Regions from separate parts of the Homo sapiens genome. Here region 1 is linked to region 2. Evidence: fine-mapped expression QTL. A gene starts in region 2. The other region holds a variant in brackets. All regions are shown on one strand. Distances are from middle to middle.

Evidence for each region. PIP is the estimated chance that this variant, and not a neighbour inherited with it, causes the effect. A credible set is the group of variants that fine-mapping cannot tell apart.
Region 1: its variant is the best candidate, but not a certain one, in a credible set for the expression of KY in spinal cord (GTEx, PIP 0.54).

The regions. Positions count from the first base shown.
Region 1 is chr3:134,669,920-134,675,297 of GRCh38, reverse strand. It overlaps a transcript of CEP63 not described here. Among named protein-coding and RNA genes, the nearest start is that of KY, 22 kb to the right of the region's middle. The variant T/C (reference allele first, on the strand shown) is at 3,240.
Region 2 is chr3:134,648,736-134,654,113 of GRCh38, reverse strand. KY (kyphoscoliosis peptidase) reads left to right here and starts at 3,092. Exons shown (of 11, transcript NM_178554.6): 1 at 3,092-3,289. The coding sequence starts at 3,154. It also overlaps a transcript of CEP63 not described here.

The DNA.
Region 1 (5,378 bases), 21 kb before region 2:
TGAAAATATTACTCTTTCCCTGTTTGTCTTGACACCCTTGTTTAAAATCAATTGACCATAGATGTATGGGTTTATTTCTGGACTCTTGATTCTATTCCATTTATCTATCTGTCTATTCATATGCCAGACTACACAGTATTGGTTACTGAAGTTTTGTGGTAAGTTTTGAACTGTAAAGTATGAGTTCTCCAATTGTGTTGTTTTTCATTGTTTTGGCTGTTCTGGGTCCCTTACATTTCCATATGAATTTTATGCTCAGCATTTTCCAGTTTCTACAATAAAAGGCAGCTGGTTTTGATTGGGATTGTGTTGAATCTGTAGATCAGTTTGGGGATCTTAATATGAAATCTTTCAATCCATGAATATAGAATGTTTTTCATTTTTAAAGGCCTTTTCTTTTGAAGATCTTTTGAAGTATCAAGCCTTGTACTTCTTCTGTTGAATATATTCTTAAGTATTTTATTCATTTTGATGCCATTGTGAATGGAACTACTTTCTTGATTTCATTCTTGGAATGTTCACTGCTAAGGTAAAGAAAAATGATTAATTTTTATATATTGATCTTGTTTCCTGCTACCTTATTAAACTCATTAGATTTAATGATTTTTCATGGATTCCTTGGGATTTTTATTATATAAGATCATATCATCTTCAATTAGTTCTGCTTCTTGCTTTCCAATTTGGATGCCTTTTGTTTCTTTTTCTTGTTTAATTTCCCTGAAAAGAACCTTCTTAAAGTAGCAATGGTAAGAGCAGATATGCATGTCCTGTTCCAAATGTTAGGGGGAAGGCTTTCAGTCTTTTACCATTAAGTTTATGTTGGCTGTGTGATATTCATGGATTTTTTTCATCAAATTAAAAAAGTTCCCTTATATTCCTAGTTTGTCGAGTGTTTTTAATATGAAATAATGTTAGATTTTGTCAAATGCTTTTTCCTAACAGTTAAGATGATCATGTGGTTTTTGTCCTTATTCTATTAATATGGTATATTTCAGTTGTTGCTTTTCTTATGTTGAGCCAACCTTGCATTCCTAGAATAAATCCCACTTCTTCATGATGTATTATCTTTTTATATGTTCCCAGATTTGGTTTGCCTATATTTTGTTGATGACAGACTCACTTCTTGACACTATGAGATGACTTTCTACAGCTGGAAGTTTGTGTTCTGTAGGAAAGACAGTACACCTCACCCCAACAGTACACTAAAAGTCAGGGTCAGGTTCTCATTGATCCAAATTGGTTCATGTGCACAACCACAAGCTAATCACTGTGTCCAATGGAATGAATTTTGCTGATTAGTTTAGACATGGACCTGGACATAGGATTAACCTCAGGAAAACCTGGGATCAGAGTAAGAGATGGTGGGCCCCCAAATAAACCTTGGGGCTCTGTTTTACCGGAAGAGTGATTGATAGACCACAGGTAGCAAAAATACGGGTGCTCACCACAGAATGTGGCCAATGAGCCCAGATTTGGGGTTGTCCTGCAGAAGGGAGAGAATGGTGTGCCTGTGCATAAGTCTGTAGGTGGTCTGCAGGAGTAGTAGGAGATGAGGTCATCTGCTGGTGGAGGGGATGGGGAAGGGATTAAATTGAGGACTCAGAAGGAAAGGGATGAAGGTTTCAGGTGTTCCAGAGAAGAATGGAGATGAGACAATCCAGGGTACACAAAAGGACAAAGGGCAGCACCAAGGGCCCAGCTGCTACTGGAGGTCCTGACCCTCAGGGCGGGCCATGTTCTGTTCTCCAGGCTGGCTGCCACACTGAGCCAGGGTTGATGTTTTGTCAGGCGTGTGTGGCAGAAGGAGGGATATGAGAGAATCCTGGGAGGTAGTGAGAGAGCCATTTTGATGGACCACTGAAGGCACCACGCATTGCAGGGAAGGAAGAGAGGCCAAAAGGAGCTGATGGCCAGGGAGGAGGGTGGGACTTCAGGACTGGAGGTCTCCAGGAAGTCCAATGGCTTCTATATGAGGCCATGAGACAGTTGGAGGGGGGACGTCAGGTTGTGGTTGGAGAAGATCTCAGAGAGGAGGTAGTTCTAGGACAGGATGAGTGAAAAGCACTGGAGTTAACAGAGGTCAGGGGTTCTGGGACGAGGTTCTTGATGGATGGTGGTATCTCCTTAATGATTACAGTCTTTAGGTATGAACAAAGGCACAAAATTTACTCCTGAAGACCTGATGAAGAGTAAAAGAGAATGTGATCCACCTCATTCAGGGCAGTTGAATCCTGGAGTTTTCACGGAGGGGTGGAAGTACTATGAAGGGTGGGAGAGCTCAGGCTTGATGCTAAGACCACCCATGCAGGGCCTTACAGGTCCTACCAAGGATTGGAGCTTCATCCTATAAGTAAAGGGAAACTATTGAAACAACGTAAGCCAGGACATGACATGATTAGAGCTGCATTGCTAAACACTCACTCTGCTGTGCTGTGGAGCGAGATGGGGAGGGAGCTACCACATGGTCCAGGCAATGGTTGATGGAGGCTTGGGCTGGGGCAAGGGGCCAGGTATCCAACACATAATTGGAGCTGAAGCCAGAAGACAGAATGAGTACGTAGAGAGCCAGGACAGAAGGGACCAACAGTAAGAGGAAGACAAGAGCCAGCATGGAGAGAAGGCAAGGGAGAGATTGGGAAGAGAAGCCATTTATGACGAAACTGGGAGCCCCCGGAATGAGAGTGTTCAAGAAAGAGGTGCAAAATCAGCTGCCTTTTGCCAGATTTCTGATTATTTGCCTTTCCCCCTTTTTCAGAGGCATAATTATAAAAGCTACAGAATATCTAATTAGGAAGAAAATAAACCAGAATCATGACAATTTTGAATTTAGCAACCATATTCTCCTTGGCCTTATTTTCAAGTCATAAATATCACTGAATCTAAGCTAGCAAAATGTTTCTTGGTAGTTGTTTTTAGGCTCAGACCCAGAAGTAACAATGGTCACAATAACCAGTTAACATTTTCTGACAGCTTACTAAGTGCTGAGGTCTGTGCTAAGCACTTTATATGTGAAATCTCATTTATTCCTCAGAATAACCTAACGAGGCAGATGCTACTATTATTACTCATTTTTAGCTGCAAGAAAAAACTCAGAGAGGTGACACATGAACACATGGCAGTGACTGGGTGATAGTATGAATTCAATCTGACTCTGGTGGCCAATGATATAATCAGTGTACCCCATTTTTTACAGATGGGGTTTGGCGGTCCTTGGAGAGGTAGGAGAGTCATTTTTGAAA[T/C]TGGTTTCAACACTCCACCCTACACACTTGTTGAGGTATTACTTGACAACCATCTATCACTGCAGGTTTCTGGAGGACAGCTCTGGCCAGCCCAGGTCCTCACCCTCACTGTGTGTGACTCACTGCTCCCCACCTACATCCACACACATTGCCTCCCTTGGCTCACAGCAACCCATTTCACAGATGAGAAAACAGCTCAGTTGGTGGACATCGCCACCAACTAAAATGTCCCAAAAGCCATGAGAGTCAGGGCAAGGGCTCAAACCCTTTTTCTGATTTTTCATTCATTCAGGCCACCCCCACCACTCTGCCACCCCTGTGTAGAAAGCATTTGTTCACTGTACCCAGCAGCAGACACTCCTGCAGCTTTTTGTTTAAACACTTCCTTAAAAGCAGGACTCTGGATTTTCCTATGTCTTTGCACATTTATTATTTTCCTTATGAAATGTTTCAAGCATACAGAAAAGTACAGTTGGTAATATCACAAATACCCACATGCTCGCCACTGGAAGTGAACAAAGGTCAACATTTTTCTTCTATGTTTGCTTCAGATTTTCTTTTAATTTTATTTCATTTTAGATAAGGCATACATGTGCACATTTGTTACATGGGTATATTGCAGTACTGGTGGGGATTGAACTTCTAATGCACCCATTACCCAAATAATGAACATCGTACCCAATAGGTGATCATTCAACCCTCAGCCCGCTTCCACCCTGCCCTCTTTTGGAGGCCCCAGTGTCTATTGTTCCCCTCTTTATGTCCATGTGTGCCATTGTTTAGCTCCCACTTATAAGTGAGAATATGCAGTATTTGCTTTTCTGTTTCTGAGTTAGATCGCGTAGGATAATGGACTCCAGCTGCATCCATGTTGCTGCAAAGGACATGATTTCATTCTTTTTTATGGCTGTGTAGTCAGATCTTTTTTAAAAAGTAAATATGACACATGTATTGATGATCTCTATGAATCCCTCTCCAATGCCTTCTTCTCCCTTCCGCCCCAGAGGAAACACTATTCTGAAGTTGTGGTGCATTCTATTCATTTTTTAGACTTTTACCACAAATGTATGTATCTGTAGACAATATATATTGTTTTGCATGTTTTAAAACTATAGCTAAATGATGTCATACTATAATATCCTTCTAACTGTAGTTAATTCATTCAGTTTTGTGTTGTAGATGTTCATCCACACGTTTCCATGTAGATCTAGTGCATTGTAACTGCTCTACAGTATACAGTATGGGAGGACTCCATGATTTATACAATACCTCCTGCCATAGACATTTCCCCATTTTTAAGCTTTATGAACTCTGCTGTGATAAGCAACCATGTACATGATCTGACCTGGTTCATGAGGTATACACTTTTCAGTTTTATCAGATGTTGCCAAATAGCTCTCCAAAATTACGGTAACAGTTTATATTCAGTTTCTAAGTAGTCCATTCATCCACAGCCAGCCATGGTGTCATCAGACTTCACTGTCCTGCTAATGTGAGAGTTAGGAATTTACCATTTATTCTCAACAGCATCATCTCTTGTTCCATGGCTGGCTGACTCCATAAGGAACTTCCTTGCAATGATGGGACACTGCCTTATTTTCTCCATTGATCCCCACTCTGTTCTCTTCACACTGGAGGCTCTGACTATGACCATCTAAGATTCCCCCAGAGCATTTCCTCAAGTGTTTTCATCAAATCAGGGACCCCCATAGCTAGCAACTCTTTTTTTAACAAAATTTAAATTTTATATGCAAAGGGACTGTGTGTGGTTTGGGGAAGAGTGTGTTCATATTGGAGGCAAATAGCTTGTAAAACTTTCTGTGAAAATAGCTCAGAGAGCCTCAAAAATCATATTTGATTTGGATTATTATCTTAATTTAGGCTGCTATAGTAAATTATTATTGATCGGCATATAAACAACAGAAATTTATTTCTCATAGTTCTAGAGGCTGAAAGTCTGAGATCAGGGTCCCAGCATGGTGGGGTTCTGATGAGGGCCCTCTTCCAGGTTGCTGTAGACTTTTCACCATAACCTCTCATTGCAGAAAGGGCAAGGGAGCTCTCAGGGTCTCTTTTAAAAGGGCACTAATCCCATTCAGAAGGGCTCTGTCCTTATGACCCAATCACTTCCCAAAGGCT
Region 2 (5,378 bases):
GTCTAAGTGTTGAATTTGACAAAGGTGACAATACAACTATTTTGACTGTCCTTTGTCTTTCTGTATCCTGGAATTCCCACTCATTTTGATTAAAATAAAGTTTTGCTCAAGAATGGAGAAAGCCCCTGGTTTGTCAGCTACTAAGACAAGGATGCAGATTAATTATTTAGGTCGGAATACAGAGAGCCTTGCATCTTTTTTATTCAAGATGGTAGCAGGATGGAGGGGCTAGTATGGTGTGTTTGGGGTGTAGAGGACATGGTTTCTGTTGAAGCATGTGTGGGTTTGGTAGGGAAAAAGGAAGAGATGGGTCTGGAGATTTGCAGGCTGAGCGTTCTGTTATTTGTCCCGTTGATTGTGTGAGCAGCTGGAGGGAGGATTTGAGCAGAAGGGATACAGCCTCTACTTGAATGATATCCCAGCCACCTCAGTGTTCTCTTGTCTCTCCTTCCCCTTTCCTGATACATCCAAATGCCTTCAGCCACATCACCTTCCCCATGGTGTCTCCCTCTCAGCCCAAGAATGGATAGTGGGGAAGAGGGGAAGCAGCTAAGTCAACCCAGGCCAAGGATGGGAATAGAGTTGGCATTAAGAAGAGCATCTCATCTATGCTCCTGGCAGGCCCCAGAAGCTAGGCTGTTGGACTGATGGCCATGGGTAAACCTCTGAGAAGAGGGTCTAGGTGTCAGGCACCATCAGGATCCAGGGGCAGCAGCATCTCCCAGAGCAGTCGAGGTGACTCCAATTTCAGGAGTTTGCTCCAAAGCGGTGTTCACACTGCAATTCTTTCCAAAGGAAACATTGGTCAATGTCTGGAGACATTCTAAGTTCTCACAATAGGGAAGTGAATGTGATTGGCATCTAATGCGTAGAGGCCAGGGATGCTGCTAGACATCCCACAGTGTACAGGAAAGCCCCACCAAAGAGAATTATCTGGCTCAAAATGTCAATAGCGCCAAGGATGAGAGGCCCTGCTCCGAAGCTGTCTTCAGACATAGCAGAGAGACAGGAGGCCTCCACACCATTTCCCCAGACCCCTGGCAGCACATTCCCAGGTCAGAATATCCTTCTCCAGAGGCAGTTCTGGGAGGGGGCACCAGAGTTTGCGAGTTCCTAGCAATGACACTTTCCAGCAGGAGAGCAAGGGTTGGGAGATGGGAATGCAAGTGTAAGGAAAGGGGACTTCAGCTCCCCCCACCATCACCAACACTCAGACCCATCCGGCAACCAAGGGTGCTGTACACAGGCTTCTAGTTGATTTCAGCACTTCAGACAACCTGACACTTGAAGGAGTTAGACAACACTGACTGGCCCAGGGTAGTTGGGGGGACTCTGGGACCTGAGATCTGCCTCAGCAATCTCCAACACCCCAAGAGCTTTGCATAATGCATAGTTCTTACTTCCCCAGCCACATAGAGAGTAAGTGTTAGCCAGCCTCCCAGGTGTGCGCGCGCGCGTGTGTGTGTGTGTGTGTGTACCTGCACACATACAGACAGGACAAGACTCACTTTAGCAGAAGGAAACCTGCCTTGGAAGTCAGCCATCTCCACTTGCCTGTCTATGGCCTCAGCTCTCTAGGGACTCCAGTTCAACATTACTGGAAGCCAACAACCTCTCCTTCCATCAGATGCCCAGTGGGTGAGTCAGGGGGTGGGGTGGTGGGGGGGGGCGCTGGTAATGCAATAAGACAACAGCCTTTACACGGAACCAAACTCTGAGCCACTGTTATTGGAGGAAGACCTTCAGAATCTCAGAGTGTGGCTGTGACATCTCTCCTGCTTCTCTGCTCCATCAGTCACTTGTCACTCCATCTTTCCCTTTCCTCACCCTTAAAATGAAGTAAGAATGACAGCTACCATATGAAGACCACTTTCTATACACCAGGCGCCTTACATTCATGCCATTCTCACAACAGCCATGTGAGAAATTTTTATCAACCCAGTGATAAGGGTGAGAAGGTGGAGGGAAAATGGCTGGTCCAAGGTCACACAGCCAGGAAGTGATGGAGCTGGTACTGGAATGCAGTCTGTGTGACACAGGCTGCTCCAAGGAGGATCTGGGAACTCTCAGGACCATGCTACAAGGTGGGGTCCATACACTCCAATGCGGGGAGGGCTCCCAGAGCAAAGGCCTCCATGTGGGGGTGCATTTATTAACAGTAGAAACTCGAATTAGGGGAACGCCCCCAGCAGGGTGGGCCCGTAGTGCCCAGGGGTACCAGGCAGAAGCCTATGTAAACACTCCTGAGACCTACAGCCAAACCCCTGCTGCTGTTGGCTGGGCAGGCCAGGCCGGGCTAAAAATAGAAGGCTTCTCAGGTCCAGCTCCCTGTGCCCCAGCCTCCTCCTCTCCCCCTCCCTCCTTCCCCACAGGGCAGGAGCCAGGCTTCTAGAACGAACCGAGACTTTAAGACTTTCGTTTCAGATCAAAGAGGATCGTTAGCTTGATACTCAATGGGCATGTTCCAAGTTCTACAGGGGCCGTAACTGGGGGGAGCTCCTGACTCCAACACCCCACCCAACTCCCTCCTAGGGAGAGAGAGCTGTCAACCTCCAAAACCAACCCAGGGAAGGAGTGAGGTCGAGGCCAAAACTTGGACAATCTCTGCACATCTTGCAATTCAATCTGGAGCCCCTTTGCTGTCTTTCCTTTTCCTGAATCTACTCTCAATGTTGACAGCACTGTGCGATTTCTGTATTTGCCAGGGGCTTCTCGTGGGAGGTCGGCTCCAGCCCTCTCGAGAACCCTCCGGAGACCGTGGGGATGAGGCAGCGCTCAGCCAGAGAAGCCCTGGAGCCCAGGACCAGCGCTTCAAGTGCACCGGGCGGGAGGCAGGGGCGCAGGGAGGGAGGCTCTGGACCGGCCGCCCCTGCTGACTATGGCCCCGGTGCAGGTCAAGGCTTGGGCCCGGGGATTTCCTTTCAAAGGTGACTTAGAGCCGCTTCATTAGGGTAGCGCCCTCCCAGGCGGGCCCTAATGGCGTGTTTGGCAGAGTCAGCGAAAAGCAGCGCCCTGCGGCTCCAGCGGCGGGGGAGCGCCCTCTTCCGCGCCCTCGCCCTCTCCCGTGTGGGGCAGCTGCGCGCACGGGGCCATTTGCAGCGCAAGCAGCCTAGCGTGCGGCCGCGGCGCCCAGGTCGGAAAGGAGGCGGCATCATGGAGCTGAAGAAGGACATCAACGCTGTATCTATCGACATGCTGCTGATCGTGCACTCGGAGAAGCGGCGCGCCGCACAGGGTACGCTCTCAGACCAGCAGGCGAACCCGAGCTCGCTGCTGCAGCGCGGAGGAGGTAACGCGCGCCCGACCCGGGTCCCCGGGTCCCCCGGCACCTTGGCCTCCTTGCCACAAGGGCCTGCCCGCCGGGGGGCGCCCATTGCTCCCCCGAACGAGGTCAGCGAACCCGACCCTCTCCCCCATGGCTGCCGTCGCTTCCCCGCAGTGGCACCGGCGTCCCGTGGCAACGCGCAGTCCCGTGGCAACGCGCAGCCCCGTGATTGCCCCAGTTTCACTCCCTGTGCAGGCCTGTGGGTGCTTCCGTCACCCCTGGGAGTCTTTTTCCTCCCAGCCACTCCCTAACGGGTGTAGAGCAAGATTGGAAGATACCCTGGAGGAAGGCGGCCAGAGCCTCAGGGCTGACTCATGGGTAGCAGAGGCCTGCTCCCCCCCACAGCACACTGCAGGGCACAGGGGACGCTGGGAAACCTTTGGGCTGAGTCAGACTTTTAGATGGGGAGCTCCCTGTGTGGCCTTGCACAATTTACAGCCTCAGTTTCTCCTTTCTTGAGACTTTCTCCCAGCCTCCTATAGATGGAAGGCATGAAAGGCGTAAAAGGAACGCAGGTTTGGATAGGGTAAGATTTGAAACCTGCTGTCTCCACTTGAACTTATCCATCAATTTTACTTGTCCTACACACTTTCTGGGTAAATTTGTAAGTTGTAGATTGGTAAAATAAAGTGACTGTTTATAGAGTGATTGTGGAAAGCAGGATCCGGGCCTCTCTGTTCTCCAGACGACAGAACACAATGTGAATGGAGTACAGAGGGATGATAATGGAGGTTAAATAAGCCCCTGAAAAGCCAGAGAACCTCAGGGTCCTGGATGGCAAGCTGTCTCCGAGGCTGGTGTGAGGATGCACTAGGCGGACTGCGGGCCAGTTCTTTAGGAGTTAGGCCTGACAGCCCATGCAGGAGAATGACTTCTGCCTCTCTCCTCCCCTCCAGCTCTGGAGCTCCTTGGAATTCCTGCTGCTGCTCTGCCCTTGGTTCTTCTGTCCCCAGAGCCTCTGTGCTCATTGAACATCCACCTTCCACCTGCCTTGCTTAAGTAATGCTGCTGTGGATGGCCTTGCCACTACCAGCCACATAGGCTGGAGCTGCCTCCAGAGCCCTGGGAACCTCTTGGGAAGGCAGGCAGGGGAAAGAAACAGAATCTAGAGGGCTGAGTATGTTGACAGGCGCTCTAGTCTCAGGGCTGATTCCTGACTGAAGCAGGAGTTGTTTGGATTCGTTGGCTCTTTAGTTATCAGACCTACTCTTGGGAGAAGGGGAAATGGCCTGCCCAGGGTATTTGTAGTTAGAAAGTCAACAGAGGGCATCAACTTCTTGATAGAAATGAGACTGCTCTGAATACATGTACCACAGTCCAGAATGCCTTCTCCAGTGTGTGGCGAGGCCTAGTTCCAGGTCAGCCCACGAGTCCCCTACTCCCAATCCTCTCTGATCACATCACTTCTAAAGGCTCTGACACTAGAAAGGGCAAAGAATGCAGAGAAGCCCAGGAAACACCAGGCATCAGGACTGCCCTGAGAGGTGCCCAACACCTAGCACAAACTCGCCATGGCTCCAGACTCATGTATGCACACTAGTGACTATGACAGAGAAAAAAAGACCCCTAATGGCTGGGCCCTTTCTGCTGAACTTTTTCTCCAAATATTTTTCTGATGGCCGTTTCTCACCGATGCTATGAATGACAGTGTAGAGATCTGTGTCACTTATTCACAACCAGAGCAGAGAAGAGGAAAAGTGCATGGCTTTTGATGCCTGGTGGGCAGAGATGATATTCAGGAGACCCCAGGCAAAGCCAGCCTGCAGACCCTTTCCTCGAAAAACAGCCTAAGGGAGGAAAATGCCCAATAAGACCAGCTTGTTCCAAAGCCTCCCATGGGTGCAAGATATAAAACAAACTCTTGCTCACTTCCAGGTATCTCCTCCTTTCTCCTCCACACTCCAGATCCTCCACTGGAGAGTGGATCTTCCTTGGTTATATAAAAGAGGGCCTAGGCTCCATGTCAGAAAAGATCAAAGCTCAATTATTGTTGCAATGCAGAGGATGGAGTAATCCGTAACGAGTGGCCCTTCTGCTGGAAGGGCCTTCTGCT